2 separate regions of the Homo sapiens genome follow, and region 2 is linked to region 1. Evidence: fine-mapped expression QTL. A gene starts in region 1. The other region holds a variant in brackets. All regions are shown on one strand. Distances are from middle to middle. Region 1 holds the start of LRRC19 (leucine rich repeat containing 19). Region 2 overlaps TEK (TEK receptor tyrosine kinase).

Region 1 (16,818 bases):
GTCATCATGATGTCTACCTGAATCCACAGGAAATCAGGAAAGGGAGGCAAGATTTGAGATACAGACAGTATACTGAAACGCCAAAAATATGAAAAAGGAGTTCAAAGAAAAAGAAATTCATTGGCCAAAAATGATATAAATAGATACTCAACTTTATTCATAAATAAATGAAAATTCAAATAAGGTAGTAATTTTTACCTATCAAAATAGCTAAAACTGGAAAAGTCAGATAATATTTGCTGTCAGTGAATGCAGGGGAAATAAGCATTCACATACATTACATCTAGAAGTAAAAGTTGGAACAACCTTTTTGAAGGCAATTTGGCAATCTGACAACATTTTTAAACTGTATACCTTTTGACCCATTGTGAGAATTCAATCTTATGATATAACTTCGCATAAAATGTATGCTTTCACAGGAGTATTGTTTATAATCCCGGAAAACTATAAACAACCTGTTCATTTACAAGGCTGTGTTATAATTATACAACATAATACATTGTAGCAATTTAAAATAATGAGGAGGTTCTCTAGGAACTGATATAAATAGACACTGTAGATACAATGTTAGGGTGAAAAAAGAAAGCTGCAGCTAGCATAGCACGTAGGAACCCCACTTGAGGTTTTCCACAACTGTAAAACCAAGATGGGATTTAGGACTCTTGTGGGGATTACATGAAGATGATGCTGATATGTGTTTACAGCTCAAAAAAGCATACAGTAAGCACTTGATAAATGTCTTTCCAGTAGTTCTATCTGGAAAGAAGGACACAAAACAGACATTTTGGCTGGGCGCAGTGGCTCACGCCTATAATCCCAGCACTTTGGGAGGCCGAGGTGGGCGGATCACAAGGTCAGGAGATCGAGACCATCCTGGCTAATACAGTGAAATCCCATCTCTACTAAAAATACAAAAAAATTAGCTGGGTGTGGTGGCGGGTGCCTGTAGTCCCAGCTACTCTGGAGGCTGAGGCAGGAGAATGGCGTGAACCTGGGAGGCGGAGCTTGCAGTGAGCCGAGATCGCACCACTGCACTCCAGCCTGGGCAACAGAGCGATACTCTGTCTAAAAAAAAAAAAAAAAAAAAAAAAAAACAGACATTTTTACTTTCCTCTTGTTCAACTATTTTTAAACCATATGCACATTTTGTTTTGTGAAATAAAGCGTTTTAAATAAATGAATAAAAAAAGTAAGTTTTTACATCCTTAAAGAGATGAACTCATGTCTCTCCCTCTTTCTTTGTTTTTATAATCTCTTGTGTATGTGTCTTTAAATTGCCATTAGAGGCTGAGCACAATGCCTCATGCCTGTAATCCCAGCACATTGGGAAGCCAAGGCAGGAGCATTGCTTGAGGCCAGGAGCTGTACATCAGCCATAACGAGACCCTGTCTTTACAAAAAGTAAAAAAAAAATTAGCCAGGTGTGGTGGTTCCTGCCTGAAGTCCTAGCTACTTGGGAACCTGAGGAGGGAGGATCGCTTGAGCCCAGGAGCTTGAATTTACAGTGAGCTACGATCATGTCACCGCACTCTAGCCTGAGTGACAAAGAAAGACTCTGTCTCTAAAAAAATAATTTTTTTAATTGCTATTGGATTTTGCATGTCCTAGGTAGGGCGGAATGATTTGTTTTATACATAGTAGGTACTCAATAACTGAATCTAATTTCTTACCATACTAGGATCTTTGTGGGTCCAGAATAGGAAGAAAAAGTATTAAACTCCTATTAGTAAGCTGCCAGATCAATATGTAGTTGAATTAGTTATATTAATATACTTGGCTGAATTAACTTTTTTAGCTGAGTAGTATGAGAACCCTTATTTGATTTTATACTTACTGCTTCCAGGCTCTCTTTTTTCATGTTCTGTGAATCCAATTGTTGTTGAAGTGTATCTAATTCCTAAGTGGAAAAAAAAAAGCAAACATAAATCCAAATTACATTAAGAATAATTTGTTGTAGTGGGGGGAGGGAGCTGGGAAAAAAAATTTATTTCTCTGTTTCTCAACATTTCAAAGTGACTAAGTAAATTTTCTAAATATCTTCACTGGCATCTTACATTTTGACTAGAATTTATTAACACTTCATTATTTCTATTTTTCCCAACTTCTTTCATTATTCTTAAAAACTTGCTGTGTGCCTTCAAAAAAAAAAAAAAAAAACTTCATGAGTTTCTCAAAAGTAGCTAGACCTTAGACCTTTTCACACTGAATCATCACTATGTTCTGAGACATCAAATATCAGAAGCTTTCAAATTATGTCATTGTTTAAGATTATTATTTAAAATTTTGATTTGTAACCGTGTTTTCACATCTTTTGCCTAATTTCTCTATACTGTGTACACACACATATAACACATGCACACATACATACACATATATGTAAATATAAATATGGTTCACATGTACACATACATACACGTATATGTAAATATAAATATGGTTCACTCCTAAGATAAGATCCTTAAACTGTTTACTCATTCATTATCCCATACAAGATTAACTATATTTTGGTACTATTTTGGCATTTCTATCATACTCTTTCTTTTTTCTTTTTGAGACAGAGTCTCGCTCTGTTGCCCAGGCTGGAGTGCAGTGGCATGATCTCGGCTCACTGCAACCTCCGCCTCCCGGGATCAACCAAGTACCTGCCTCAGCCTCCCGAGTAGCTGGGATTACAGGGGCCTGCTACCATGCCTGGCTAATTTTTGTGTTTTTAGTAGAGACAGGGTTTCACCATCTTGGCCAGGCCATACTTTTTCTTCAACGCTTCACAGTATCTTAGAAATCTTCTCTAAAATAAAAAGGTTACTAAATTGTCAGCAAAGGAATGTCTAAGAAACTAAAACTATAATCATTATTGGCATTTATGGGGCCTAATTCTTTGCTTAATCTTTAGTTAAGGGCCATCTGGGCATGAAAGGGAACCACCATGACTGAGTATTGAGAGGATTCTCAATATGCCCTCAACAGGGACTTAAATTGCTTATTTAATATTGCATGTTCTCACTCATCTGTAGGAGCCTAAAAAAGTGGATCTCGGCCGGGCACAGTGGCTCACGCCTGTAATACCAGCACTTTGGGAAGCCGAGGGGGGCGGATCACCTGGCTAACACGGTGAAACACTGTCTCTACTAAAAACACATAAAAAATTGGCCAGGCGTGGTGGCGGGCACCTGTGGTCCCAGCTACTCAGGAGGCTGAGGCAGGAGCATGGCATGAACCTGGGAGGCGGAGCTTCCAGTGAGCCGAGATCGCGCCACTGCACTCCAGCCCGGGCGACAGAGCGAAACTCCGTCTCAAAAAAAACAAAAAAAAAAAAACAAAAAAAAGGGGGTAGTAGAATGATGGTTACCAGAGGCTGAGAAGGTGGTGCCCAGTTGGGGGCATGGGGTGGTGTGGGGGAGAGAAGGAATAAATTCTCATGTTTGATAGAACACTAGGGTGGCTATAGTTATCAGTAATTAATTGTATGTTTCAAAATAGCCAGAAAAGGAGATTCAAAATGTTTCTAGCATAAGGCCGGGCGCGGTGGCTCATGCCTGTAATACCAGCACTTTGGGAGGCCGAGGCAGGCGGATCACGAGGTCAGGCGATCAAGACCATCCTGACTAACACGGTGAAACCCCGTCCCTACTAAAAAAATACAAAAAATCAGCCGGGCGTGGTGGCGGGCGCCTGTAGTGCCAACTACTTGGGAGGCTGAGGCAGGAGAATGGCATGAACCCGGGAGGCGTAGCTTGCAGTGAGCCGAGATGGGCACTGCACTCCAGCCTGGGCGACAGAGCGAGACTCCGTCTCAAAAAAAAAATTTTTTTTAAATTAAAAAAAAAAAAATGTTTCCAGCACAAAAAAAATGCCAAATGTTTGAGGTGATGAATATCCTAATTATCCCGATTTGATCATTATACATTGCATACGTGCATGGAAATATCACATGTACCCCATAAATATGTACAATTGTGTATCAATAAAAAAATTAATTTTTAAAAATGGAAATTTAGGCAATATAATTACAGGACAATAGCCATTCAAATCATAATGCTAACAGGTAAAAAGGTTAGCTGTTTATTAAGCAGGAAGGAAAAGGAAAGTAAATATATATATGGATCTGGTCTATGAGGCCTTTTTTTTTTTGAGACAGAGTCTCGCTCTGTTGCCCAGGCTGGAATGCAGTGGTGCAATCTCAGCTCACTACTGCAACCTCCACCTATGAGGCCTTTTAATGTTTGCATTAAAAGTCTGTAACTGCAAGTATTTACAGACTTTTTAATTTACAGACAAGTATTTTTATCAATGCAAACATTTATAGAAAAGTACTTTTATAAATGCAAATATTTATAGACAAGTATTTTTATAAATGCGAGTATTTTCATGTCTTTATGAAATGCAAAATGAATAAATAGAAGTAAACCAAAAATAATAAGAGTAAAAGCTAGGTCATCAAACAGCAGATGAAAATGAAGTTTTCTAAATAAATTCTTCTGAAATGTGAATATACGTATGAATCAGATGGGGACCTTGTTAAAATGAAAACTGATCTCAAAGTATAGTCAAGTTCTCAGGGGATGCTGATGCTGCTGATATTCAAACTATACTTTTAGTAGCAAGAATGATACATGCTTGGCACACAGCAGTAATTTGTATTACCTGTAACAGTTTCTCATTTGTGGTTTTCATCTCTAGGTACTTGACTTGGTTTTCAAAAGACATATTTTTGATAATGTCATCTGTTGCTTGTTTTTCCTGTTCAATTTCTTCTTCGACACTTCTGATTTGTTTTTCTTTCCTAAAATCAGAAGCACGTAATATTCCTGATACTATATTGAGGAAAAAATATCCAATTATTTTATACAAGTCATGGTCCTAATTTAATAGGATACTTAAAGACATTCAACCACAGTGTGTGACTGAAAAGTCTTTATATTTGTACTAAAAAATGCTATTTGACCTATATAAAATTTGGCCCCATTAGCACAAACTTATTTTTACATCTTTCTCTTCTCCATCCCTAAATTCCTCTATTTCCTTACTCTCCATTTTATTTTACTAAGAAATCACAAAGATTACCAAAAAATCCTTAATGACTTATATATATGAGGATGCATTTATACTTTTTTAAAGTTATACCTTCAAAAGACAAATAAGAGGCTGCGCTCGGTGGCTCACGTCTGTAATCCCAGCACTTTGGAAGGCTGAGGCAGGTGGATCACCTGAGGTCTGGAGGTCGAGACCAGCCTGGGCAACACGACAAAACACCCATCTCTACTAAAAGTACAAAAATTAGCCACACGTGGTGGCGGGCACCTGTAATCCCAGCTACTTGGGAGGCTGAGGCAGGAGAATCGCTTGAACCCAGTGGGGAAGAGGTTGCAGTGGGCTGAGATCGCGCCACTTCACTCTAGCCTGGGCAAAAGAGCAAAACTCCATCTCAAAAAAAAAAAAGACAAATAAGTTTTAGAATTGTGGTTTTAAAGCATCCTTTAGCCATAAGTTTTTCTGACTAAATTAAATACTGTATAGAAGTTTCCCGTGTAAATCATCCAGTGTGGCTCTGACAGAACTAGGGAGTAGAGAGGCCTGCAGTGCAATTTGATTTTTTAGTTATGGCTTTAGATTAATAATATGCTTTGCTTAAGTTCTCTTTTACTTACTGCTTTAGTTAACATTGCTATTTCACAAATTTTTGCTATTTTTTAGCATTGTAAAATATTAAGCTCATTTCTCTAAAAACACAATAAACATTACAAACATAATCCTATAAAAGTAGTAATAGTGAAATTAATTAGAAGCAATAACCATTTTTATCACGTAATCAAAAGAAATACCAATGACATGTCACTTGTTGCCTAGGCAAGGTCAATTATTGATAGGGTAGAGAAAAACTCTGAAAAAAGAATAGGTAAGATGCCACTTATCTAAATACTTTCAAGATTTACATTTTATAAAAAGCTGGATTGAACACACATTTTCACTCCCAAGATCATTAATTTCTATTTTGAGTTTCAAAATCTGATTAACCTATCACTATTTACTCTCTTTCGCTCATAGATACCAACTTCTATAGTTTTCACAATCACCAGCTAAGCTTGTGGATCCACATATCCCCTACACACCTTCTACACATTCATATCCTACTACTAGAATAAACAACCTAAACTCAGAAATTTCCCTACCAAAAAAAATCTCAAAATAACCAAATAAAAGATGAACATAGTAAAGCAACCTGGAATTTCAATTTATTTTTGTTTCACTGTTGGAGAAGAAGTGGTATCTTCACTTGGAGCTTCAATTACAACAGTAAAACAAATGTGTTTCCTGCTGCTACAATTTGTATAGGTATATGAGCTCAAAGAAATTGAAAGGAAAGTATCTATTTTCATAAATTAAGGATACTGAAGCCCAGTGGAATTAATCTTTTGGAAGGAATTCATTCTAAATTTGATTACTGACTACCAACAGTGTTTCTTCTTTCAATGTAGGAAGATGAGAACTAATGTTATAAAGTATTCCATTTTACAGAGGAGAAATTACAGCATAAGAAAAGTAACTGACTTTCTAAAGGCCATATGATGTCCAGGTGTAAGGTCTTTTTGATGCTTTGAGTACTTTGCTCCTGTTATAACTTGGCAGTAAAACCACTGATGATGGTGTCATAAAAGTAAGTAAACAGGCTGGGCATGGTGGCTCATGCCTGTAATCCCAGCACTTTAGGAGGCCGAGGCGGGCAGATCACGAGGTCAGGAGATCGAGACCATCCTTGCTAACATGGTGAAACCCCGTCTCTACTAAAAATACAAAAAAATTAGCTGGGCGTGATGGTGGGCGCCTGTAGTCCCAGCTACTTGGGAGGCTGAGGCAGGAGAATGGCGTCAACCCGGGAGGCAGAGCTTGCAGTGAGCCGAGACTGCGCCACTACACTCCAGCCTGGGTGACAGAGCGAGACTCCATCTCAAAAAAAAAAAAAAAAAAAAAAACACACAATAATAAGTAAACAAAAACGTTGAAACTCAATAGAATACAAAACTTGGTGGTATCTTTACAATTTGAATCCCTCCCTACCTCCTTTCTTTTCTCTCTCTCTCCTTTCCTTCCTTCCTTTTCCTCCCTCCCTGCCTCCTTCCCTTCCTCCTCCTCCTCCTTCCCCTCCCCCTCCTCTCTCTTCTCTTCTCTCTCTCTCTCTCTTTCCCTCTCCCTCTTTCTGTCTTTCTTTCTTGACAGGTACCACTTGTCACCCAGACTAGACTGTGGTAGCACAATCATGGCTCACTGCATGCTCAAACTCAAGCCATCCCCCCACCTCAGCCACCCAGGTAACTGGGACTAAAGGCACACAACACCATGCCCTGCTAATGTTTTTACTTTTTATTTTGAGTAGAGACAAGGTCTTGCTAAGTTGGCCGGGCTGGTCTCAAATTCCTGAGTTCAAATTATTCTCTCATCTTAGCTTCTCAAAGTGCTGGGATTACAGGTGTCAGACTCTGCACCTGACCTCAGTTTGAATGCTTCTAAGCACAAAATACCATCAGGACAAACATAAATTAATTTAGCAACAGTATATCTTTCAAAAGTATGCATTTTCAATATTGTAAACTCTAAATCAGTAAGTAAAATTGTTAATACTTTAATAAAATTTTCAAAGAGTAATTAAGAAACACAAAGGTAGGCTGGGTGCAGTGGCTCACACTTGTAATCCCAGCACTTTGGGAGGCTGAGGCAGGGGTATCACCTGAGGTCAGGAGTTTGAGACCAGCCTGGCCAACATGGTGAAACCGCATCTCTACTAAAAATACAAAAATTAGCCAGGTGCAGTGCCGGGAGCCTGTAATCCCAGCTACTCAGGAGGCTGAGGCAGGGAGGAGAACTGCTTGAACCCAGGAGGTGGAGGTTGCATTGAGCCGAGATCATGCCACTGCACTCCAGCCTGAATGACAGAGCGAGACTTCATCTCAAAAAAAGAAAAAAAAGAAAGAAACACAAAGGTTAGGCAAACAGCCTTACTTGTTATACTAAAAAAGGAAAAGATGACTTTAAGAAATTATTCTTCTAGTCAATCTTTTGCTAAGGAAGTCTAGTTTTTTTTTTTAAATCACCTGTTCACTGGGTACAAAGGTTAAAACAAAGTGAAATGTAATCATACGATGTACTTTTTTTAATGCCGTTGAAACAGAGTTAATTTCCTTTAGCACACAAGTCTTAGAGACAAAAGAAAAAAAGGTAAGATATGTATATTTATAGCTTTGGTTATTGTTGTATTTTTTTTAATCATATTTAAGTTTGTTAAGTCTGTACAACCATCTTTGCCTTTAAGAAGTGATGAAAAATAAGAAAATATGATTATATTTTCACATGGTCTACCTCAAAAATACTATATACCTGAGACATGGCCAAAGGGTCTTTCCTAAATAAAGTTAGAATACAATACTAAGTAATTGTTTTGCGGGGGGCGGGGGGGGAAATGGTTTCATCTAGCCAATCAAATTTATAAGAATTTTTATTTTAAAATATGTTAATCACAGAGCATTCTGAAGTGACACTAATCTAAAAGCCAATTGGCAAGATAAAAAAAAGACTGGCCATGAGTTGATGATTATTGAAGCAGGCTGATAACTATTCTTCTTACTTAGGTTTTTTCCTTGAAATTTTCCATTACAAAAAGGTTTTAAATCTGAAAAAAATCTACACAATAGTTAAATAAGGAAACAAAGTTAATTGTGTATTATTAACATCATTCTCTAAATACATTGAATTCTGGCATAAATATCTAAAATACTTAATGGAAAAACTACATTTAGATTTTAACAAAACCAAAATAATTACAGCATCTCTTTATTTCATAGCATATAATAATCATATAAAGTAAATAACTTAAGAAACATGTACTTGAAACTTTATTAAGAACAATGCTTCTTTTTCAGTATCTACCATTTCCTTTGAGTAAAGCTCTTTTTTTTTCAGTAACGTAGATCATATGCTAGGTAAAAATGCACGTAATTTTGTGAAATAACAAAAGAAACTGATATTCCATCTTCTATTCCAGTTTTCTATTTTATATTAGCTCCTAAGTAATCACTATATGAAACTCAACTATCATTTCAAAAAAAATCCAAATTAGAAAATATTCCAAAAGGAGAAAGAAAGCAACAATGACTGACTTCCTTTTAAACCAACTGTTGAAACAGGCTAAACTGACTGATGGATAATTTCTGCATAATCTACTTGGCCAGCTATTCTGCGTATCTGATTTTCTTTTTTTAAAGACACCCAATAATGCTAGCAAATGCTTTGTCTGGGGACTTACTCAGTGTCATGATAATCGACATCACCCCCTCTTTCAATCTTTCTCCTCTGAAAAGGCACACAAATATGTGAAAACTCTCACAGATAGTATGGATCAATCAATGTATTTCACAGCTTCAGACCTAACGATGCTTTAGATTTGTTGAATGCTTTCTTGTACAGAATCTACCTTGAGCTGAGTATACACTGCTTCCAAGATCTATCCAATGGAAAGGAAAAAAAATCCTTTTCTAATCCTTATGATTTTTTTCTTTTAGCGCACTTGAGAAAACAATTATTAGCATTAAATAGCAGATACAGATAATAAATATAAAACCATACTCCGTCTCCATTTCCACATAAGCTCACAGTCCTGTCTTGCCTCCATTACTTTTTTCACCTGCTTCTATTTCATATCAACTTTTAACTTAAATCTAGTTCATTTTCTTTGTAGCCTATTTGCTTTCTTTCACTATCCCCATCCTATTTGTTTCTGGAAAAAAAACAGCACTTCCCTTACCCACCTCTCCTCAGTCACCTCTGCAGCCTACTAGAGACATCAGTAAGAATTTCACCACATCATTGAGAAATACTGAAACAAGCCATTGAAGGAGCTGAACACCTATTCCTATAAATCATTAAACATAGGTAAACTACCTTTTGTAAATGATTTAGGCATCCCTCTTCTATGGGCAATCATCTTGAATAAGTGATAGTTTAAATGCACTTCTGGCTCTAAAAGGGATTCTATTATGATCTACATCCAAATTTTATAAAATATAGGAGGCAGAGTAGCTTTTCCTAACAAATTTCATTTAACTATGGAAAGAGAAAAGGTAGAAGGGGAATGTGCATAAATGGATCAACAAATCAAAGGCAATGAGGAAGTTGACTAGAACAGACTAGCACTAAAATAGCAGTAAATTCCTTATTGCTAACGAGGCGAGAGACTTTAGTATGCTGCATGGATTCTTGCCTACTCTGATTAGTTTTTCTTTTTTTTTTCTGAGACAGAGTCTCACTCTGTCACCCAGGCTGGAGCACAGTGGCATGATCACGGCTCACTGCAACTTCTGCCTCCCAGGTTCAAACAATTCTGCTGCCTCAGCCTCCCAAGTAGCTGGGATTACAGGTGCCTGCCACTGCACCCGGCTAATTTTTGTAATTGTAGTAGAGATGAGGTTTCGCCATGTTGGCCAGGCTGGTCTCAAACTCCTGACCTCAGGTGATCTGCCCGCCTCGGCCTCCCAAAGTGCTGGGATTACAGGCGTGAGCCACTGCACCTGGCAGACATGATCTTACACTTAAAAAATTAAAAAAAAAACAAACCCTAAATACTCCACAAAAAATCTGTAAAAACTGACAACTGAATTCAGTAAAGTTGCAAGATATAAAATCATCATATAAAAATTGGTAGAATTTAGATATGCCAACAGTGAAGAATCTGAAAAAGAAATCAAGAAAGCAAGCCTGTTTACGATAGCTACAAAGAATATAAAATACCTTGGAATCAATTTAACCAATGAAGTGAAATATCTATATAACAAAAACTGTAAAACACTGATGAAAGAAACTGAAGAGGATACAAAAAAAAATGGAAATATAATCCATGTTCATGGAGTGGAAGAACATTGCTAAAATATCAATACTAACCAAAGCAATTTACTGATTCAATGCAATTCCTATCAAAATACAGTGACGCTCTTCATAGAAGTAGAAAAAAAAATCCTAAAATTCATATGGAACCATAAAAGATCCCAAATAGCTAAAACAACCCTCAGCAAAAAGGAACAAAGCTGGAGGCATCACACTACCTGACTTCAAAATTTTCTACAAAGCTATAGTAACCAAATCAGCATGGTACTGGCATCAAGACAGATCCATAGACCAATGGAATGGAATAGAGAACTCAGATATAAATACACACATTTACATCAACTCATCTTCAACAAAGGTGCCAAGAACATAAAATGGAGAAATAATAGTTGTTTCAATAAATGGTGCTAGAAAAACTGCATAACTATATATGGAAAAATGAAACCAGACCCCTATCTCTTGCCATATCCAGGAATAAAAATGGATTAAAGACTTTAATAAGACCTCAAACTATAAAACTGTTTCAAGAAAACACTGGAGGGCTGACTCTCTTTTCGGACTCAGCCCACCTTCACCCAGGTGAAATAAACAGCCATGTTGCTCACACAAAGCCTGTTTGGTGGTCTCTTCACATGGACCCGCATGAAAGTGGCACATGCCTGTAGTCCCAGCTACTCAGGAGGCTGAGGCATGAGAATCACTTGAACCCAGGAGGCAGAGGTTGCAGTGAGCCAAAATGGCATCACTGCACTCCAGCCTGGGCAACAGAGCCAGACTCTGTCTCAAAAGAAAAAAAGATCTGGTTGTTTAAAAGTGTGTAGCTCCTCCCTCTGCTCTTTCTTCCTCCTTCTCTAGCCATGTAAGACATGCCTGCTTCCCCTTCACCTTCCACCATGATTGTAAGTTTCCTGAGGACCCCCCAGACGTGCATCCTGTACAGCCTGTGGAACTGAGTCAATTAAACCTCTTTTCTTTATTTAAAAAAAAAAAAGAGAAAAAAAGAAAACGTTGGAGAATTGCTCTAGAACACTGGCCTGGACAAAGATTTTTTTGTGTCTCTAAGACCTCAAAAGCACAGGAAACCAAAGCAAAAATGTACAAATGGGGTTTCGCCAAGCAAAAAAGCTTGTGCACAGCAAAGAAAATGATCAAAAAAGTGAAGAGACAACCCACGGAATGAGAAAATATTTGCAAACTACCCATCTAAAAAGGGGTTAATAATCAGAAGATATAAAGAGCTCAAACAGCTCACTAGCCAAAAACAAACCGATAAAAAACAAATAATCCAAGTAAACATGGCAAAAGAACTGAATAGATATTTCTCAAAAAACACACAAAAGACAAACAAGTATGTGGAAAAAATGCTCAACATCAGTAATCACTCAGGGAAATGCAAATCAAAACTACAATGATATATAATCTCACCCCCATTAAAGTAGCTTCTATCAATATGACAGGCAATAACGGATGCTGGTGACGATGTGGAGAAAGGGGAACCCTCATACACTCTTGGGAATGTAAATTAGTATAGCCACTCTGGAGAGCAGTATGAAGGTTCCTTAAAAAACTAAAAATATAACACTTACATTTACATTTGATCCAGTAATTCCACTGGGTATACATTTAAAAAAAAGAGATGAATATATTAAAGAGATAGCTGCACTCCCATGTGTATTGGAGGACTATTCACAAGAGCAAAACTATGGAATCAACCTAAGTGCCCATCAACAGATGAATGGATTAAAAAAAAGTAGCATATATATACAATGGAATATTATTCAGCCATAAAAACAAATGAAATCCTGTCATTTGCGGCAACAAAAACGGAACCGGAGGTCATTATGTCAAGTGAAATAAGCCAAGCACAGAAAGACAAATATCACACATTCTCACCGGCATGTGGGAGCTAAAAAAGTGGACCTCATATAGATTAAGAGTAGACTAGTGGTTACCAGAGGCTGGAAAGGGTGGTAGGGAGGGAGGAATGCAGAAAAGTTTATTAATGCATACAAACATACAGTTTGCTTAAAAAAAGAAGGCCTAGTGTTAGATCAGTAGGGTAATTATAGTTTACAGTAATTTTTTTCCTTCAACTTTTATTTTTAAGTTCCGGGGTACATGTGCAGGTTATGCAGGTTTGTTACATAGGTAAACATGTGCCACGGTGGTTTGCTGCACAGATCAACCCGTCACCTAGGTATTAAGCCCAGCATCCATTAGCTATTTTCTGATGCTCTCCCTCTCGTCTAATTTACTGTACATTTAAAAACAGCTAGAAGAGAATTTGAATGTTTCCATTATAAAGAAAAGACAAATATTTAACGTGTTGGATATCCCAAGTACATTAATTTGATCTTTAAAAATTATATGAATGCACTACTTTATCACATGTACCCCAAAACTATGTATATCTACCACGCCTCAATAAAATTTTTAAAAGTTACCATGGGGGGAAAAAGAGTGCTAAAGATTCTCATCTCCCACAGTTTTAAGTCAAGAATAATAGATAGATAATGCCAATAGATAATGCCTAAAATTGAAAAAATCAAGACCATCAATATAAGCATATACTTAAACATGCATAAATATACGTTTTCCTGAATTTCTTTTGTGCACTTCTATATTAAATTTTTAAAATTTACAACCACTTAAATTGCTTTAAAGCTCCTTTCATGAGATCTAGAAACTAATGAGACACACTTAAAAATATTAATTTTCTCTAAAAAGAAAAAATAGAAATCAGTCTCATTCTTCAAAGGGGCTTTCTAGTTTATTAAGATCAGAGTGCAAGGATGGTGAATGGCCATGCACTTGTTTCACATTTTATGTATTTCAAGAAAAAGTAGATTTGAAAGGCCAGGGTAAGTGGCTCATATCTATAATCCCAGCACTTTTCAAGGCCACGCCAGTGGCTGGGGGGAAATGGCTCGCACCCAGGAGTTTGATACCAGGCTGAGTAACACATGGTGACCCCATCTCTACAAAAATTTTTAAAATTAGCCAGGCATGGTAGTGCATGCTTGTGTTTCAGCTACTTAGGAAGCTGAGTTGGGAGGACTGCTTAAGCCTGGGAGATCAAGGCTGCAGTGAGCTGTGACCATGCCACCAGGTCTGTGTGACAGAGTGAGACCCTGTCTCAGCCAAAAAAAAAAAAAAAAAAAAAGAATAAACAGATTCAAAAGAGGGAAAAATAAAAATGTCCTTAATGAAAATACTCTCTTTTCTATCAGGTCTGCAACATGAAAGTCACAGGCATCACAATCCTCTTTTGGCCCCTCTCCATGATATTATTATCAGACAAAATCCAGTCTTCTAAAAGAGTAAGTTTTTACAATCAAAATAGTAAAAATATTTTCAAAGGTACATTTTCTGTATATTTAGTAAAATATAAAAGGGCAATAAGAAAGCAAAGAAAATCTGACCTACTAAAATTAAGAGTTTATTTAGCTCTGTATATCCAAATTCCAATTTGACAAAAGCAGCCTTCATTTATAAAAACTGAGTTCTTTAAAAGTTGATTAAAGGGAGAGATCTGAAAATTTTCACTATAAAATCAGAAATTAGTTTTAAGAGTAAAATCTTGTTTAAAATGTAGGAAACTTTTTTTTAAAAAGCACATATTTATGAGAGAAACTGCTATTGAATTATTATTGGTGAAAAAATCTAACTGCAAAAACAGTAATAAACCAGAACTATTCTTAGTTCTATTTATTCTTAGTTTACTGTTCAGTAAAAACAAGAACTATTTCTTTCTTTCCATCTATATCCACATAAAGAATTTCAGATTGTGTGGCTCTTTAAATTCAATACCTGGCTCCATTTCTGATAAAAGATAAATATTTCCTTTTAAAACACCAAACTTTGAGCTGTTAAACCCAGAGAGTTTAAGAGAGTTAAACCAGAGAGTTTATTCAGACTGATTGATTGATTGCTTGCTTTTGAGACGGAATCTCGCTCTGTCGCCCAGGCTGGAGTGTAATGGCATGATCTCAGCTCACTGCAACCTCCGCCTCCTGGGTTGAAGCGATTATCCTGCCTCAGCCTCCCAAGTAGCTGGGATTACAGGTGCTTGCCACCATGCCCGGCTGACTTTTTTTTTTTTTTGTATTTTCAGTAGAGACAGGGTTTCACTGTGTTGGACAGGCTGGTCTTGAACTCCTGACCTCAGGTAACCCGCCTGCCTCAGCCTCCCAAAGTGCTGGGATTACAGGCGTGAGCCACCATGCCCAGCCCATTTATTAATTATTGAACAGCCCTAGGTATAATGTTGTTAGCTCTGCTGATTTTAAAAACACATATAGTTTAAAATAATTTCCTCACTATAAAGCAATTGTGCACACTGGAATATTAAATGTTAACAGAATTATTATTTACCATACATTTCCACATATATAAATGGGAATATTCCAGTAGCATTACTTTCTGTAATGATCATGTAATAACAGTTGGAAAATACCCGTATGACAAATTGGAATCTCTTTGTTCAATTGTATGTATCAGAATATCCTTAATTTTTAGTATTTCATCCCAATAAAGAAAAAGATTTGCTCTACTGTAACACCAAAATATTAGATAGTAGGTTTTTTTCCCAAAATAACGTCCTTCTAATGTCTAAGTGCTTAAATATGAAATTTGGTGAAATTCTATTAATTTTTTTTCTGATTAATGCCTTTCTTTTTTTTGTTTTTCTAGGAAGTCCAATGTAATTTTACTGAAAAAAATTATACCTTGATTCCAGCAGATATCAAGAAAGATGTTACTATACTTGATCTCAGTTATAACCAAATTACTCTTAATGGTACAGACACAAGAGTTCTACAGACATACTTTTTACTCACAGAGCTCTATTTGATTGAGAACAAGGTTACTATCTTACATAATAACGGTTTTGGTAACCTCTCCAGTCTAGAAATTTTAAATATCTGTAGAAACTCCATCTATGTAATTCAACAGGGTGCATTTTTAGGCTTAAATAAACTAAAACAGTTATATCTCTGCCAAAACAAAATAGAACAACTGAATGCTGATGTATTTGTGCCTCTAAGAAGCCTAAAACTTCTGAATCTGCAAGGCAATTTGATTAGCTATTTGGATGTACCACCACTATTTCATCTGGAATTAATAACTTTATATGGAAACCTATGGAACTGCTCTTGCAGTCTATTTAATTTGCAGAACTGGTTGAACACATCAAATGTGACATTAGGTAAGCTATCATAATTAAGCAAAACCAAAATGTGATTAACTCAATGTTCCACCACAGAAAAATCTCTCATATCACGTTTTAAAGAAAAGGAAGCAGCCAGGCGCAGTGGCTCATGCCTGTAATCCCATCACTATGGGAGGCCAAGGCAGGGGGATCACCTGAGGTCAGGAGTTTGAGACCAGCCTGGCCAACATGGTGAAACCCCATCTCTGCTAAAAATACAAAAATTAGCTGGGTATGGTGGCGCATGCCTGTAGTACCAGGTACTCAGGAGGCTGAGGTGGGAGAATTGCTTGAACCTGGGAGGCAGATGTTACAGTGAGCCGAGATCGTGCCACTGCACTCCAGCCTGGGCAACAGAGTGAGACTCTGTCTCAAAAAAAAAAAAAAAAAAAAAGGAAAGGAAACAATTTCTGTTTAAGCAAAACAGGAAGAAACACTAAAAAGTAACAGCTGCATAGATGCTCTCCTTCCCCATTACCAGGGGGAAAAATTAAGAAATTTTTTTTTTTTTTGAGACAGAGTTTTGTTATTATTACCCAGGCTGGAATGCATTGGCGTGATCTCAGCTCACCACAACCTCCGCCTCCCAGGTTCAAGTGATTCTCCTGCCTCAGCCTCCCCAGTAGCTGGGATTACAGTCATGAGCCACCACGCCTGGCTAATTTTTTGTATTTTTAGTAGAGATGGGCTTCCTCCATGTTTGTCAGGCTGGTCTCAAACTCCCGACCTCAGGTGATCCA
Region 2 (16,818 bases), 150 kb before region 1:
GTAGGAATAAAATAACCCTCTGTTTCTTCTAATGGATCAGTTTGAAACAGGTCTTTGGATCTGAAAACGTTTCAAACTTTATATATAATTTCCTACCCCCAAATGAAATCACCAAGGAGGTTTGAGTCAAACTGCTGTTGACTATTTTGGATGATGCCATTGATAAAATCCAGTTTGTCTGTTTGGAGTGTGTGAGCCAATTTAAGCTGTGTTTTGGCACATCTCAAATGGATTTTCCACTTCCTCCACAGATGTACGAGTCAGCAGCAAGCAGGAATATATTGATGTTTATTTTATCCTGCTGTGTCCCTAGGCAGGCATTTCTGAGTTTCCATGATGTTTTAATAACGAATTAATAGTGACATGAAAACATAGTTTTGGAGGTTTTTCCTGATTCATCATAAAGGATTTCACTTTCCTCAAACCAGATTTCCCCCACTGGATGGTCAGCAAGAAAAACAGAACCTGTTCATCAGCCTGAGATGCTGTTATTGTTAAAATACAGGAGAGAACATACCTATTTTTCCATTTTGTGTAAAACTCCATAATATGTGAATGCATAGTAAAAATTTCTACAATTGAGTCGGAAAATTATCTCACCTATTACTCAAAGAAATTACAATAATCAGTTGTTAAACATTTACTGTGAAGCAGATAATGTAATTGGTAATAGTTAAGTGCCTCATTTAATTTCCAAATATGTGTGATAAAATCTCTATCCTTATTTTTTTTCACATGAGGAAAAAATATGACTTCAATTAAGTAACTTGTCCTGAGCCACACCACTCAGTTGCAGAGGTAGACTCGAACCCATATCTGTCTGACTTCCACTCTCATACCTCTACTCTGTGCCCTGGGTTGCTTTTTAGGACTTCAGGTAGGATCATTGTACTTTATAAAACAAGAGCTCAGAATCAGGGAGAGTTGCTAACATTAAGTGAGAATGATATCCAAAGGGTAGCGTAGTGGTAATAAATACTGGCTCTGAAGTCAGATCACTCGGCATCAAATGCCATTCCCACCATTTACAAGCTGCTATTATTCTTATTACTATGTACCTTATTCTGCAATATATTGCTTTACCTAAGCTTTTAGGGACAACGTTCACTGTGTAAATCGATGCTTCTTGTATATACCAACTTATTTAAAACAAAACAATTTTGTAGGTATTATTATACCCATTTCACAGATGATGATAAATGAGACCAATAGAAGTTAAATAACTTGCCAAAGGCCACACAGCTGGTGAGTGATGGAGAACGAATTAAAACTCAAGTGAGCATAATTCTAAAAGCCATCTTCTCGTTAGTGTTTCTCACTATCCAGGTCTGCCTTTGCCTTATTTAACTGAAGTTAAGCCATCCTTTACCTGTGATCACCTAGCCTCTCAGTTTGGGGGGATCATTACAGCGGGTTTTTAACTCCCAATGTTCTGGTCCAGTTTGCTTTACATGTTCTTATTTATACATTGTCAAGGATGACCTCAGGACAGTACAGCAAGGACACAGTGGCACTTCACATTTTGTTCCCACGAAATGACTGGGGCATAATCTCAGATCATCTTCCTTTAGAATGTGGAAACATCAGCAGAAGAATATTAGTCTTTATACAAGTCAAATCCAAAATGACACATGTGAAAAATAATAGAGCTGACTTTCAGCCATGATAGCTTTGGCACACCTCACATCCCTTTGTTCAACCTCTCTTCCCTCAACGGAGAGCTGCATTCCTGGGAATTTCTGTTGTGCACTTTTCCCACTTGCCCTGCTGTCATTTAAAGGTGAACATTCTAGTTTTGCTAAGAAAACCCTTTCCTTCATTTGGAATGAACAGCAATTTTATTACTTTTGACCTTAAAATGAGTTTGCTGCCTTCAAATCTTTTCATTACTACCATTAGTAAATTCAAAGAAATATTTTCAGCTGGACCCAAGTTAGAGGCTAACTCTAAACTGCTACTCAAAGCGTGGTCCATGGTCGAGCAGATTCTCATCACCTGGGACCTGGGTAGAACTGCATAATCCCAGGACTGTCCCAAACAACCTATTAAATCAGAGTCTGCATGTTTACAAGAACTACAGGTGATCTGTAAGCATGTTCAACTTTAAAAAGCATTGATCTAAAAAAAATGCAGACTACAGATGGTTAGATTATAAAAGAAACAGCCAATCAGCAATGTGCAGAGGTGTGTTACTTAACTGGATCAGCTTTCTAAAAGTCAGGCCTGGTGGGCTCACACCTATAATCCCAGCACTTTGAGAGGCCATAGTGGGAGGATGGCTTGAAGCTAGTAGTTCAAGACCAGCCTAGGCAGCAAAGCAGGACCCCCATATCTATGAAAAATTCGTTTAATTAGCCAGGCATGGTGGTGCATGCCTGTAGTCCCAGCTACTTGGGAGGCTGAGGTGGGAGAACAGCATGAGCCCGGGAGGTCAAGGCTGCAGTGAACTGTAATTGTGCCACTGCACTCCAGCCTGGGCAACAGCAAGACCCTTGTCTTTAAAAAAAAAAAAAAAAAAAAAAAAAAAAAACCCTAAACAGCTGACAATGTCATTATTTTATGTAATGACAAGTCCTCAGTCCACAGCTCCTGTGGTTGTGATGATACTAATTTGGAAAAGACTCCTTCATTTTAGGAATCAGCAGCCCAGACAAAGTGGCTGATAGGGGAGAGGCCAGATCATTCCAGGCAGAACAAAGAGAGGTCACCTTAGCTGGAATTCTGTACCTTCCTCCCAGCAGACAGCATCAAGAGCACCAGAAGTCTGCCTGCCTGTCCAGGACTGGAACCTTATAATACAATTATTAAATAATATTTGCAACACCATCTCCTTCAACTGCCATCACACAGGTGGACTGGTCTAAAGATTTAGCTTAAGGCCCACTTTTATTTTGGGAGGAAGACTTCATCACATCATCACCTTGTGGGGTGGTAGCAAGTCTTAATAATCCTCCCTTAGAGGAGGCTTTCAAAATCCTCCGGCAAAATTCTGGTGTTTTCTGAGCTGGACCTGGGTACTCGACTGCTAAAATTAAATCATGGTCCTTTTCCAAAAATGGTAGCCTGCAAAGAGGGCCCTAATTCTTCATCCCTCCCTGTATCCCTGACTCTTTGTCATTTCAGTTTGTAGTGCCCTCTCACTCTGATACTAGGCTCAGCTACTTAACTGGCTTAGGTTGATAAAATGAAGCAGAAGTGATAGTGTACAATTCTGAGCCTAGGTTGCAAAGAGCCTCATGTCTACATCTCATGTACATGAAATGTAGATGGCAGTGGTACAAAAAAATAGAAACACATGAGGCTCCTGGCAACCTAAGCTGAGAATTGTACACTATGACCTTATACTACCTTAGCCTGCTATAGTATAAGGAACTGAGCAAAGTTGCCCCAGCCAAGGCCAGCCTACTAAGCCTATAGCCAGGCAACACCATATATGTAAGGAATCCCAACCAAGGTCAATACATCCATCTAATCAACACAGCTGACTTAGACTCACAAGCTATAAATGCTCATTATTGTATGCCACTGTGGTTTGTGGTTATGTTACACAGCATTATTGTGGCAATAGAAAATTGATACACTGGCCGGGCATGGTGGCTCACGCCTGTAATCCCAACACTTTGGGAGGCCATGGCGGGCAGATCACGAGGTCTACAGATCAAGATCGTCCTGGCCAATATGGTGACACCCTGTCTCTACTAAAAATATAAAAAATTAGCTGGGTGTGGTGGTGCTTGCCTGTAATCCCAGCTACTTGGGAGGCTGAGGCAGAAGAATCGCTTGAACCCGGGAGGCGGAGGTTGCAGTGAGCCAAAATCATGCCACTGCACTCTAGTCCGGTGACAGAGTGAGACTCCACCCCCCCAAAAAAAAAAAAAAAGGAAAAGAAAGTTGATATACCAAATAACTAATTAAATTAAGTTACTGATGGATATTCCCCTTCTAAAATTCTTATTTATATTTAATTTTCTCCTGAAAATATTAACTTCCATTAAGGGTATTTAGGGACAAGCAAAGCAATGTATCACATGAAAAATCAAATAAGAAAGCTCAAAATAGTAGTTTGGCAATGAACACTTGTTTTCATTGCTATGATTTTCATATTACATACATGTAACAGTCAACTATCCATAAGTACCATGATGCCCTTAGAACATATGAAATATTTCATCTCACAAAGTAGGCACAGTATCTAGTTAAGGGGTTGGACTGGGTAGTCTCCTTTATCTCTAACATTCCATGTACCAGACACGGTGATGCATGGAAAGAGACAGGCAAGATCGTCAAGCTCTACATTCAGGTAGTGCATGCCCTGCCCCTGAGGGAGCAGCTGCCAAGACAAAAGGTGTGTGTGTTCCTCAGTGGGCCTCACCTGCCCAAAACTTAGGGGCATGTTACCTTGTTGACGCATCTTCATGGTTCGTATCCTGATTGCCTCTCCTCGAACTCGCCCTTCACAGAAATAAGCACCATTGATCTTACTAGCCTTTTCTCTCTTCCAAACAACTTTTTTAGCCCATTCTCTGGTCACATCTTGAGTAACTTCCAGCGGATCCTGGTGCTGGTTCATTAAGGCTTCAAAGTCCCTTCCTATGGTGATGGGCTCATGGGGGCGCCACCCAGAGGCAATGCAGGTGAGAGATGTTTCAGCATCAGATACAAGAGGTAGGGAATTGATCAAGATCAAGTCCATGGCACCTTCCACAGTTCCTAAAAGGAAAGAGAGACAATAATGTATGACTAAGGTTATTAACATGACCCCATTGGGTAAACTGGTGCTCACAAAGCCTTGTCTTAAAGTTGTGTGAGGATTCTTTCTAAAATGCTATTCTGACCATGTGCCTATCTTCCACTGGACAAAATCCAAAACTCTTTACCAAGGCATCAAGACCCTTCATCAGCTAGACCCTGCTAACCTCTCCTGCCCCACTGCATACCCTAGTTGCAATGGACTACCCATTATTCCCCCAACAAGCCATGCACTAGACATAGCTGGGTATTCAGGAAATGTATGTAGTATTAAGATGAATTAATAATAATGACATTATCATTATTCATTTAACTATTAGTTATCAATTGATGCTAATGTGATACTGTCACAATAATAAAGTATTCTAAAGAAATATATCAACTACATAAACTTATGCCTTATAGATTCTCATTTTTAAAGAATTGCACAATTCCACATTAAATACCTCAAGATAAGTGACAGACAGTGACTAAGTGAAGTCTTCATTTCCCTCAGGGCCTCATTTACTCCATCAGGATTCTTGTAAAGATTAAATAAGATAAAATACATAACTTGCCAACCACTCTGTCTGTTATATATTGCATACTCAGTGATTATTATTTCATTTCTCTTTATTCTGTTTCCTGAACACTTAGCCCCAAACCTTACCCTCTCCCCAAATGTAAAAACAAAAACAAAACCTTACCCAAACTTTAAATTTTATGAATTTGTTCTGTAAATGAGGAAGTACACTTTTAAAAAGAAAATCCTCTCATGTTATTTTCTCACTATTTCTCTTTCTTTCTCTCTCTCCCCTCCCCACCCCTCCCTTTTTTGATTTCTAAAGGTTCTAACATGAGCAGATAGAGTCTGTGTCTATTCTCTCCTCTTTAAATGTGGAAATATCAGGGATGGAAAATGTTCTCTAGCTCCAGTGATGGTTGGCTCTCAAATGTGCATAAAACAATCAGGAGACTAGAAAAATCAATTGAGTGATGAGGGCCCAACTAGAGTCTCAGAGACCTTTGTGTAGAAGTGATTCAAATAAGCTACATGTTATCTTATTGAATACCCATTAAATTCAGCAACTCTGTGAGGTATGCACCATTATCTCAATTTTAAATATGAAGAAATGAAGGCTCAAAAGATTGAGCAGCTAGTTTCATTTTCCACAGCTATTGAAGGCAGAGCTGGGATTCAAATGCTCACTGGTCTTTGATTCCTTGGATACAAGATACTCTTTCCTACCTCAAAGCCTTTGCTGTTCCTTCTGCCTGGAATGTTTTTCTCCACTCTTGGCATGGCCACCTTCTGCTTGTCCTTTGGGTCTCAGCTTAAGTGCCACTTTCTCATAGAAGGCTTCTCTACCTGCCTTATCTATAATACCTATACACTCTCATCCCATTGACCTCTAATTTGGCCTCCTGTTTTATTCATACAGATTACCATAATTTGTGATTATTTTATTTACTCTCCCTCTAAATGATAAACTCCAAATGTTCTGTATAGGAAGAGGAATTTAGGAATTGGTTTACAATGGAATATTCTCCGTAATCTCAACATATAGAGGACTTAAGTATTTGTTGGATGAGTGTATGGATGAATGGGATGGATGGATGGGCAAATTTTATTTCAGATCTGCCTGACTGAAGTCCATCCATTTGCTCGGCTTCCAATTCTAGAATAATAAGGTTAAAAATGAAAGTGCGGGCCAGGCACAGTGGCTCATGCCTGCAATCCCAGCACTTTGGGAGGCCGAGGCAGGGGGATCACCTGAGGTCAGGAGTTTGAGACCAGCCTGGTCAACATGGTGAAACGTTGTCTCTATTAAAAATACAAAAATTAGCTGGGTGTGGTGGTGGGTGCCTGTAATCCCAGCTACTCGGGAGGCTGAGACAGGAGAATCATTTGAGCCCGGGAGGCAGAGGTTCCAGTGCTGCGCACCAGACTGGGCGACAAAGAGCAAAATTCTGTCTCAAAAAAAAAAAAAAACAAAAGTGCTCCCCCGAGTCTGAACTGACCTCCTTGCCCATATTTAACTGTTTTGGGGCAAAAAAACATTATTCCCAATGTTTTGGGGAAAAAAACATTACAATTTTTACAAAATGCCAAAGAAAAGTGACCAATGACTGCTGAGCGTTTAAGGCTAATATTCATTTACCAGAATTTTTGAGCACCTACTTATGTCAAGCATTGTACCTGATATAAAGTCCTCATATAATTTGTTTTTAATGGCAATTGCCAGTGTTTACTGTATTCAGTGATGTTTTGAGGATAATCTTGGTACAAATTAAACCTTTATCTGAATGATTAGAAAGAAAAATTTCAAAGTCAAGTCTTCGTGTAAGCAGGAGTTACACCTGCATTTTATTGTAATATTAACTCATTACATGAGATTGAGGGAGAAAATCTCCACTAGAATGAGTTCCCAAGCCTGGCCTTGAAGCATCCATTTTACTTCTAGCCTCATTGGTAACTTTTAAGATCTCAGGACAGAGAATACAAGTTAGGATAGTAAAAACATTGAAAGAGACGACGAGCTACAAAGCCTAACAGTGGAATTACAGCCTCCAAAAATAACACCAGCACACACCTCCCCTTCCACGTACATACCCAGGCCTGACTCTGAGTGAACACCACTTCATCTCTCACACTCACACATTCCAGGCATGTTCCAGAAAGAGTCATCAAGAGGAAGGAAACACTGTAATTCTTTCAACTCCAGTTCAATCCAGCCCCATTTCTAGGGCCAGTCAAGAGTCTTGCCAAAACCACAGGATCTGCTCTGAGCTCCCAGCGGTGGCAGTGGCCGTGGTTTATTTAATAGCTTTAGGAAATAATACAAAATGCAGTTGATTTGAAAAGACAACCAAGCTATGTATAAATTATTTCTAGGTATGTATCTAGTTTCTTTTTCCTCTTGCTCCTTTCAGAGATCTCCCTTTACTTTCAGTGACGGAAAAGGAAATTGTGGCCTCTGGGAGTCTGGACTTGACTATACTTCGCTACCCTTGTTCAGCATGCCGGTTAAGGAAGACCTCTTCCACCAGCCAGTACTCTGTCCTTTGTAACCCCATTTACAGTACCAGAAGGATCTTCTATGTGAGCTTTGGGTATAAGAAGACATACCTACCAGCTTCCTAGGATGAGTCTTGAAAATCACCTGCTTAGTTTTCTTAAAATGAGAATCTATAGTTGTATTTGCTAGTATCTGCCTAAAGAATTTCTAGAAGGTGACACATAAAAAGAAGAACAACGATGACCTATTCGGGGGAACTGGGTAGTTGGGGCACAATGGTAAAAGGAAGACTTTTCCCTATATGCTTGTGTGTACTGGCTTTTGAACAATTTGACTATTATTCACACATAAAAATTAAACGTAAAAAAAAGTGTTATGGCCCATTTCTTAAAAAGGGGCAGCTGGAGGCTGGGCGCGGTGGCTCATGCCTGTAATTCCAGCACTTTGGGAGATTGAGGCAGGCGGATCACCTGAGGTCAGGGAGGGATAGCCTTAGGAGAAATACCTAATGTAGATGACAGGTTGATGGGTGCAGCAAGCCACCATGGCATGTGTATACCTATGTAACAGACCTGCACGTTCTGCACATGTATCCAAGAACTTAAAGTGTAATAAAAATAAATAAATAAATAAAAGAGAGACAGAAAGAGAGAGAGAAAAAAATGGCAGCTGGAAAAGAATCAAGAGCCATGGACATATATGTCCCTTTATGTCTCATCCTTCAGCCCTATATCTACTCCAAATTTCAAATTACATCCAAATAATGCATTTTTCTCTTTCTCTCTTCTTTGAACTAATAATAGGAAATGTGATGTTATCTCACAATGCTGAAAAATAAAGGAGTTAAAACTTAATGCTGAAAAAAAAAGTAGCCAAACAGCCTTTCAGAAAGAATAGAGCAGAGGCTCCACGACAACGAGTACAACTGTGGTCCGTGGCTTCTTGAAAGAGTTCTGCTGCTGACACCATGAAAGGCATGGCTGCCACTGCATATCTGGTGCCACTCAAGACATTTTCTAATAGAGACATTTCCTGAGAATCATTGCCAGAAGACAGATCCTATCTGGGCTCATACCAATATCAATCTCTCTGCTTAATACCCTTTCTTACATTATAGCGCTATCCTCTCCAAATCATGTTGGGGACGGATAGTGAGTTGTTTCATCACAACCATATCTAAAAGGCTCTGATCAAATTCATTAATAGTTTAATTCATACTTCTATCATGAAGGCTAATAATTTGCTGAAACAAGATGCATATTTAATATCATACATCTTATAAGTTTTAGAGATTAATGCTATTTTTCCTTAACAAAGATCTCTCAAATACTTTTTCTTTTTTTGAGACGGAGTCTCGCCCTGTCGCCCAGGCTGGAGTACAATGGTGCGATCTGGGCTCACTGCAACTTCCGCCTCCCGGGTTCAAAAGAATCTCCTGCCTCAGCCTCTCGAGTAGCTGGGATTACAAGTGCCCGCGACCACGCCCAGCTAATTTTTTTTCTATTTTTAGTAGAGGCGGGGTTTCACCATGTTGGCCAGGCTGGTCTTGAACTCCTGACGTCGTGATCCACCCGCCTCGGCCTCCCAAAGTGCTGGGATTACATGTGTGAGCCATGCGCCCAGCCTCAAACACTTTTTCAATGTTTGCATAAAAGTGTGTCCTTGTTTATAAGGAACTACTTGGCATTGTGGCATGACGTCTACCAAGTTAACAACCAAGCATCACAAGTGAAGC[A/T]TAACAATCCTCTAAAATGTTTTGCTCACTGTATTTTCTGTGTTCTATATTGAACAGTATCTAATCTTTCTTAGTAGCGTCTTCTCACTAAATCTTATTATGGTGAACTCAAAATGTTGTTTAACTCTAGTTTTTATATTTACATTTTCTTGTATTCAATATTGCTATGAATAATGAGCCATTAACTAAGACATGGGAATATTTTTATTTAAAAATAGTTATGGAAATTATTGTGGGCCTGAATCAACACCCATATTATAGAATTTAATTACATTAGAAATTAGAGACAGAGCCATGTTAAACTGTGTTTAAAGAAACTGTAATTTCTCATGTTCTAAAAAGGTGCTCCAGAAGTTTCTGAGAGTGGAAGAGGTGAAATCAACAGAATGGACTCTAGACCCACACCCTCACCCACTCCCAGTGAGCTACTCAACTTTATTTTATTTTATTTTTTTGCGGCGGGGGGGCTTCATATAAGATTTTATTTGAAAGAAAAAAATTTTGCTTAATTAAAAACATAAAACCTCAAAGGTCAGCAATTTTCATTTTTTCACAGATGAAGGGGATGAAAGGTTAAACATATCAATGAAAATACACTCCACTGCAGCACAACATGCTTGCTCCAATTAGCTTTTTTTTTTTTTTCCACATTCCAGTTCACATACAGCTGCAGATGAAATCAAGTCCTGATTTACCCAGTTCCCTGATCTTCGAAGTGTTGGCAAGCTAGGAGACAATTTTAGGCAGATTAAATTATTGCATCGCAGGCTTATTCCCTTGTGCTTCTTACTACCTCAGAATTGTAGTATTGGGTGGAATTCTGCTAAGGTGTGTTTGGAATAATGCGTCATGTCTTCAGAACAACTAACTGTATGGTCACTGTATGGTTTTTTGGAAATTTGGTATTAGCTATGGTTAAATTTTTCAAAAGGTGTTCATGGTAATTTCATCTTTGTAACAGAAGTAGGTATCTTAAAGTTCTAAATATTTGAAATACCAATTAGCACTTCCTTGGCCAAAGGCATTTCAGAAATCAGGGAACTGGCAATGAACTGAAAAGGTCTGAGTCAAAAGCATTTCTGGAATTAAGGCCGTGGCAATGAGCCAAAGAAGCAAAGACAACTCCCAAACTATCCAGGATATTTTGCGAAATTGTTTGGATTTTAGTTTAGGTTTTTTGTTTTTGCTGTCCTGAAAAAGAAAAATTATCTTCAGTTCAAAAAGCACTCATTAAGTTGTTTATGTGTCCATTCATTCACTTACCACGCAGACTTATTGCATGCTTCCCCTGTGCCCAGTACTGCACTTGGCCCTGGAGACACAGCAGTGAATATACAACCGTCTCGTAGCTTATAGGCAAATGTAGGAGACAGACATGGAAAACTAATCACATAAACACATAAATACAGACAGGTACTAAGAGAGAGAATTACAAGATGCTTATGAGACACCATAATGGTAAACTTTATCAGACTTGACTGTTTTGAAGGAGGGTTTGTGGACTTTTAGTCTAAAGGAAAGTTGGGGTTAGCCAGGCAAAGCAAGAGAGAGATGAGAAGATAATCAGAAAAATCTTCCCCAAAATGGTAACTACTGAGCAGTAGTTACTCATTTTTCAAAAATGAGTTTTTAGTAGGACTCAATTCTAGAATGTTCTTTCTCTATCTTAAAGTTGCTATTAATTTCTTTCTGTTGGGCCCTAAGAACTACCAGCACTATTCCTCTGTGTCAACCCTTATGTTAAAGTATTTTCAGTATCTTTTCTGCCTTCTTGTCTCCCATGAAGAAATCCAGTTCCCAGGCATGTTTCCAACACTTTAATCCTTTTTTATTCTCTGTCTTCCTTTTGTGTATGTAGTAAGTCTCTGAGCAATAACTTCTTCCTCAAGATTCCTTCCAAGAAGATATTGGGCAGCTAACAAGAAGATACCAAAATATACAAGACTGGAAATAACTAAAGGAAGTTGCTAACATTTTTATTGTATAGCTGGGAGTTCAGAGTTATCCAGGGGCATCCTGGATGTGACTGGGCTGTGACTCTCTAACAACAAACTCCTGTGCTCACCCAGGAGTTGTACCAAGCCAGTTTCCCCAAAGGCCATGCCCGTTTCCCATCCCTGCTTTCCAGCCAAATGGCACCCTTGTCTGTCTGCTGGAGGGAATGACATCCTCTCGCCACCTTCAAACGCCGGAAATTTTCCATCTAGGCCAAATAACACATGTGTTAGTTAGAATGAGGATCAGTCAGCTGGCAGGAAACTTTTTATTTCCAGGGAACAGACAGAGCATCCACACAACGAGACTTTACTGAACATTCATTTATATGCAAACTCCATTCTGTGAGGCAGTGGGGGTGCAGGAAGCATGGTTCCATCAAATCAAGGATTGTTTACACCGGAAGAGGTTTTACAGACTGCTTGGTGCAAGCCTCACACCTTATTTTTTTGAGACAGTGTCTCACTCTTGTCACCCAGGCTGCAGTGCAGTGGCACAGTCACTGCTCACTGCAGCCTCGAACTCAAGGGCTCAAGTTATCCTCCCACCTCAGCCTCCTGAATAGCCAGAACTACAGGCATGCAACACCCCTCCCCCCAGCTAATCTTTAAATTTTTTGTAGAGATGGGGGTATCACTGTGTTGCCTAGGCTGGTCTCGAACCTCTGGGCTCAAGTGAAGCTCCTGCCTTGGCCTCCCAAAATGCTGGGATTACAGGCATAAGCCAACATGCCTGGCCAAGCCTTACACTTTATAACAGGCAATCTGAGGCATATAGAAAAGAGACCAGTTGGTGATTGCACAAAGGGTAGTGGTAGAGCCAGCCCTCAAGTGCTGATTTCTCTCCAGGGCCCTTTCTGTCACCCCAGAGTAGCAGTGTTAACAGCCAAGTCCTTAGTGTGAGGGAATATGGAATGTATATACATCTGGCAGGAGGGCGCCTGGAGAATCCTGGAGTTTGGTAGAAATTGGGGGAAGAGAAAAAAGATTTTGAGGAGAGGTGGCTAAAAAGCTAGAAAGGGTACAGGACAGAGAAATTGAGAATATCTAGAGAGGAGTTTTGGCCACCTTACAGATTCCCTTAAGCCTGGCAGTGCTGCCTCATCATCTTCCCTACTCACTTTGTCTCAGGAGTGGGATGCTCTCTAAATGCACTGTGTTTATCAGCACCAGGATACCCGGTATGGGAAAAATGCATCTTTGGAACCAGACCACCTTTTTCTGGGCTCTTCTCCTGATTCAATTACCTGCCAAGTTCCCAACTACCCTTATGCTGCTCAAAGACGTACATACCCACACCCACAACCAAGCATATCTATCTTCCAAGACAGCACTGAACAAAATTCAGTGTCTCCTCAGTGCCCTGTTCTTCTGCTCCCAACAGAGAAGGCAATTTGACTGACTTGCCTGCACAAAGAGGAGAATAAGCAAGAATTGCTCAAAGTGACAATTCACGGAGAACGATTGGAGGAGCAAATCAAAGAAACGAGTCTATAATGGAAGAAATTCAGGATTATATTTGCTAAGAGGAGATTGACAAAAGAAGTCACCTAGCCTTCCTAGTAGGCCTGAGATTATACCATGTAGAAAAGGAAGCTGACAATTTTTATTATATAATACATAATAAACACAATGCTAAGTGCTTTACAAACATTGTCCACTTGAATTCTCACACTATTGAAGGAAAGCATTTACACTCAATTTTATAGGTTAAAAAACCCTGAAATTCAGGAATGTTTAGGGATATGCCCAAGGTCACATAAGTAGAAAGATACAATTTGAACCTATGTCTCATTGATAATAAGTTCCATTACTACCTACCATGCTTTAGTCTAAACACCATCTAAAAGTCAATTTTGCCCATCGCTGTATCTCTAACAATGAGCACAATGCCTGGTTTATAATAGGTATTCCATAAACATTGATGAATGAATAAATAAATAAATGAGTGAGTGAGATTGGCCTTCAGTGAATGCATTCATTCAATAAACCTTTATTACTATGGGCTGGGCTCTGTGCTGCTTTCTGTGGGTCAAGAAAATAATAAAAAATAAAATATGGTTTCTGCCTTCAAAAAGCTTACATTCTGGCCATCCAATGTCATGAAGAAAAAACACTGATAGATTTTATCACAGAAAAAGCCAAAACCTTCTATACAGCAAAAGATTATATAAATGAAGTTAAATGACCAAGTAGAAAAATACTGTTACATGTAAAACGTATGTTACATGTAAAACTTAAGGAGTTAATATGTATAACATATAAAGAAATTTCATAAGTCGTTGAACCAATAGCAATTCACAGAGAAGGAAACACAAACAGCCAGTCGCAGTAGATTCATGAAAAAGTGGTCACAATATTTTGCATTTCATTCCATCAAGAAGTGGAGTTTCTTTCTCCATCTCTTGAATCTAGGCTTGGCCATGGGACTTCTTTTGATCAATGGAGGATTAGCCAATGTGGCATAAGCAGAGGCTTGAAAAGTGCTTGCCCACTGGGCTCTCCCACTGGGCTTGCACTCTTGCTGCTGCTCTATGGAACCCTGAGGCCATCATGAGGAGACGCCAAGACTAACCCGCTAGAGGATGAGAGACCAATCCAGCTTAAGCCAAAGAGTTTCCCAGATGACATACAGAAGCATAAGTCATAATAAATGTTTGCTGTTTTACCATTATGTTTTGGATGCCTTGTTACTCATCAAAAGCTGATATACTCACAACATGTGAAAAGTTGAAAAGATGTTTAACCTGACCACAGATCTCAAAATACAAACTAAAAAGACATCTCATTATTTGCCTATCAAATTGTCAAAGAATGGAGAGGGTCATAATATCTGGTGCTGGCTGTTGAATAGAAACATCTATATTGTTGATGGGCAGTGTAATTAGTAAAACATGTTTACAGGACGTGCTCGCAATATCTACAATAACTGAAAAGTTATATAAAAGCTAACCCTAATTCATCACTTATTATGTCAGGTACTACTCTAAGTGTGTCAACACATAATAACTCAATCCTCATAGCAATCTAGGCAGTAGGTACTATGACTGTTTCCATTTAACAGAAAAGGAGACTATGACAAAGAAAGATTAAATACTTGGTGATTGTTACACAGCTAATTTGTAGCAGAGCTGAGACTGAAATTTAGGTGGACTGGTTTCACTCCATTCTTTCAACAATTAAACTATATTACACCATCTCACGTCAAAAATGTCTAACAATTCAATGAAGTTGTTTTCAACAAATAATACTGGAACACTTGGACATCAATATGCAAAAAAAGAGCCCTAACCTAAAACCACCCATGTATACAAAAATTCACTAAAAATACATCGTGTAAAACATTAAAATACAAAACTTTAGGTATATAGAAGAAAATCTTCATGACACTGGAGTTAGAAAGTGATTGTTAGCTATGACACCAAAAATTAGCTGTCATAGACACCATGAATAAAAAAGAAATTGTTACGCTAAATTTTATTAAGATTTAAAACTTTAGTCTATGGAAGACATTGTTAAGAAAATAAAAGGACAAACCATGAACTGGGAGAAAATATTTGCTAATCACATATCTGGCAAATGACTTGCATCTAGAATGCATAAAAAGCTCTCAAAACTCAACAGTAAGAAAACAACTCAATTTTTTTAAATGAGCAAAAGATTTGAGACACTTCACCAGAGAAAATGTATAGATGGCAAATAAGCACAAAAGATGTTTAATATCATTAAACATTATGGAAATGCTAAGTGAAACCACAATGAGATACTGCTACAAACCTATTAGAACAGATCAAAAAACAAAAAAAGAAGAAAGAAAAAAGAAAACCTGATAATACCCAGTGCTAAAGAGAATGTGTAGGAACTGCAATTCTCATCCATTGATGGAAGTAATTTAAAATGGGTGGTATAGCCACTGTGGAAATTGGTTTAACAATTTCTTATAAAGTTAAACATACACTTACGTATCACCCAACAATCCCACTTGTAGGCATTTACCCTTCAGAAATGAAAATGTACATTCATACAATGAATGTTGGCCGGGCGCAGTGTCTCACGCCTGTAATCCCAGCACTTTGGGAGGCCGAGGCGGGCAGATCACAAGGTCAGGAGATCAAGACCATCCTGGCTAACACGGTGAAACCCCGTCTCTACTAAAAATACAAAAAATTAGCCGGGCGTGGTGGTGGGCACCTGTAGTCCCAGCTACTCGAGAGGCTGAGGCAGGAGAATGGCGTGAACCCGGGAGGCGGAGCTTGCAGTGAGCCGAGGTCACGCCACTGCACTCCAGCCTGGGAGACAGAGCAAGACTCCGTCCCCCCCGCCAAAAAAAAAAAAAAAAAAAATAGAATGTTTATAGCAGCTCTATTTATTCATAATCACCCCAAACTGGAAGCACCCAAATATCCTTCAGTGGATAAATACATAAACAAGCTATAGTATATCCATGCTACTCAACAATGAAAAGAAAAAACCTATTGCTACTTGCAGCAACATGGCATTATGCTGAGTGAAGAAGCTAAAATCATCTTCTACCTACTGTCCGACTGCATTTATATGACATTCTAAGAAAGGCAGGCCTGTAGGGATGAGACCAGATGAGTGGCTGCCAAGGATTAGGGCTGGGAGAAATCTGACTACAAAGGGGCAGCACAAAAAAGATTTTTGGGGTGATGGTACTATTCTGTATCCTGATCGCTGTTCTTAGTGGCAGATACATGAGTGTATGTGTTAAAACTCATAGAGTTGTATACACACAAAAGCCAATTATACTGTATATTAACTTTAACAATTATAATAAAAATGTATCTTTCATATTTACCAGTAAAAATATGCAAAGATATGGCAAGGATATTCATTGCAGCATATAGCCACAAACTGTAAACAATATAAAGTTCATCAACAGAAGCATCTCTAAATAAATAACGGTACATACATGTAATAGGGTATTATAAGTTTGCATGAGCCTTGAAATATAAAGTGAAGAAAACAAGATGTAGAACAGTACGATGACATCTAAGCTTAGAAGTCATACACCAACCTGATAACAGTGTTACCTGTTGCTGATAAAACTGGCAGGCACATGGGGGCTGAGAGAAGCAGCACCATAGAAGATATTCACTTATTGCTTTGCATGCTTAGTTTTGTATTTCATTTCCTCTATAATTTTAAAATAAAGATTTTTATTTATAGGAAGGCACACACAACTAATCAATCTAATGACATTGTTCTAATTAAATATTGACATGTCTGTCTTCTTCCTTAGACAATGAGCTTTCTGTCTTCAACGCCCCAGCACCAAGCACTGTGTTTGACAGACTACTCATTTTAAATATGTATGAGT

The links. PIP is the estimated chance that this variant, and not a neighbour inherited with it, causes the effect.
Region 2: its variant is fine-mapped to the expression of LRRC19 in lung (TOPMed, PIP above 0.99).

Annotation. Positions count from the first base shown.
Region 1 is chr9:26,996,985-27,013,802 of GRCh38, reverse strand. LRRC19 (leucine rich repeat containing 19) reads left to right here and starts at 8,131. Exons shown (of 5, transcript NM_022901.3): 1 at 8,131-8,211; 2 at 14,100-14,189; 3 at 15,562-16,075. The coding sequence starts at 14,109. IFT74 (intraflagellar transport 74) reads right to left here. Exons shown (of 20, transcript NM_025103.4): 9 at 4,645-4,783; 10 at 1,835-1,897.
Region 2 is chr9:27,145,723-27,162,540 of GRCh38, reverse strand. It overlaps TEK (TEK receptor tyrosine kinase), which reads right to left. Exons shown (of 23, transcript NM_000459.5): 2 at 4,399-4,710. Among named protein-coding and RNA genes, the nearest start is that of TEK, 45 kb to the right of the region's middle. The variant A/T (reference allele first, on the strand shown) is at 9,484.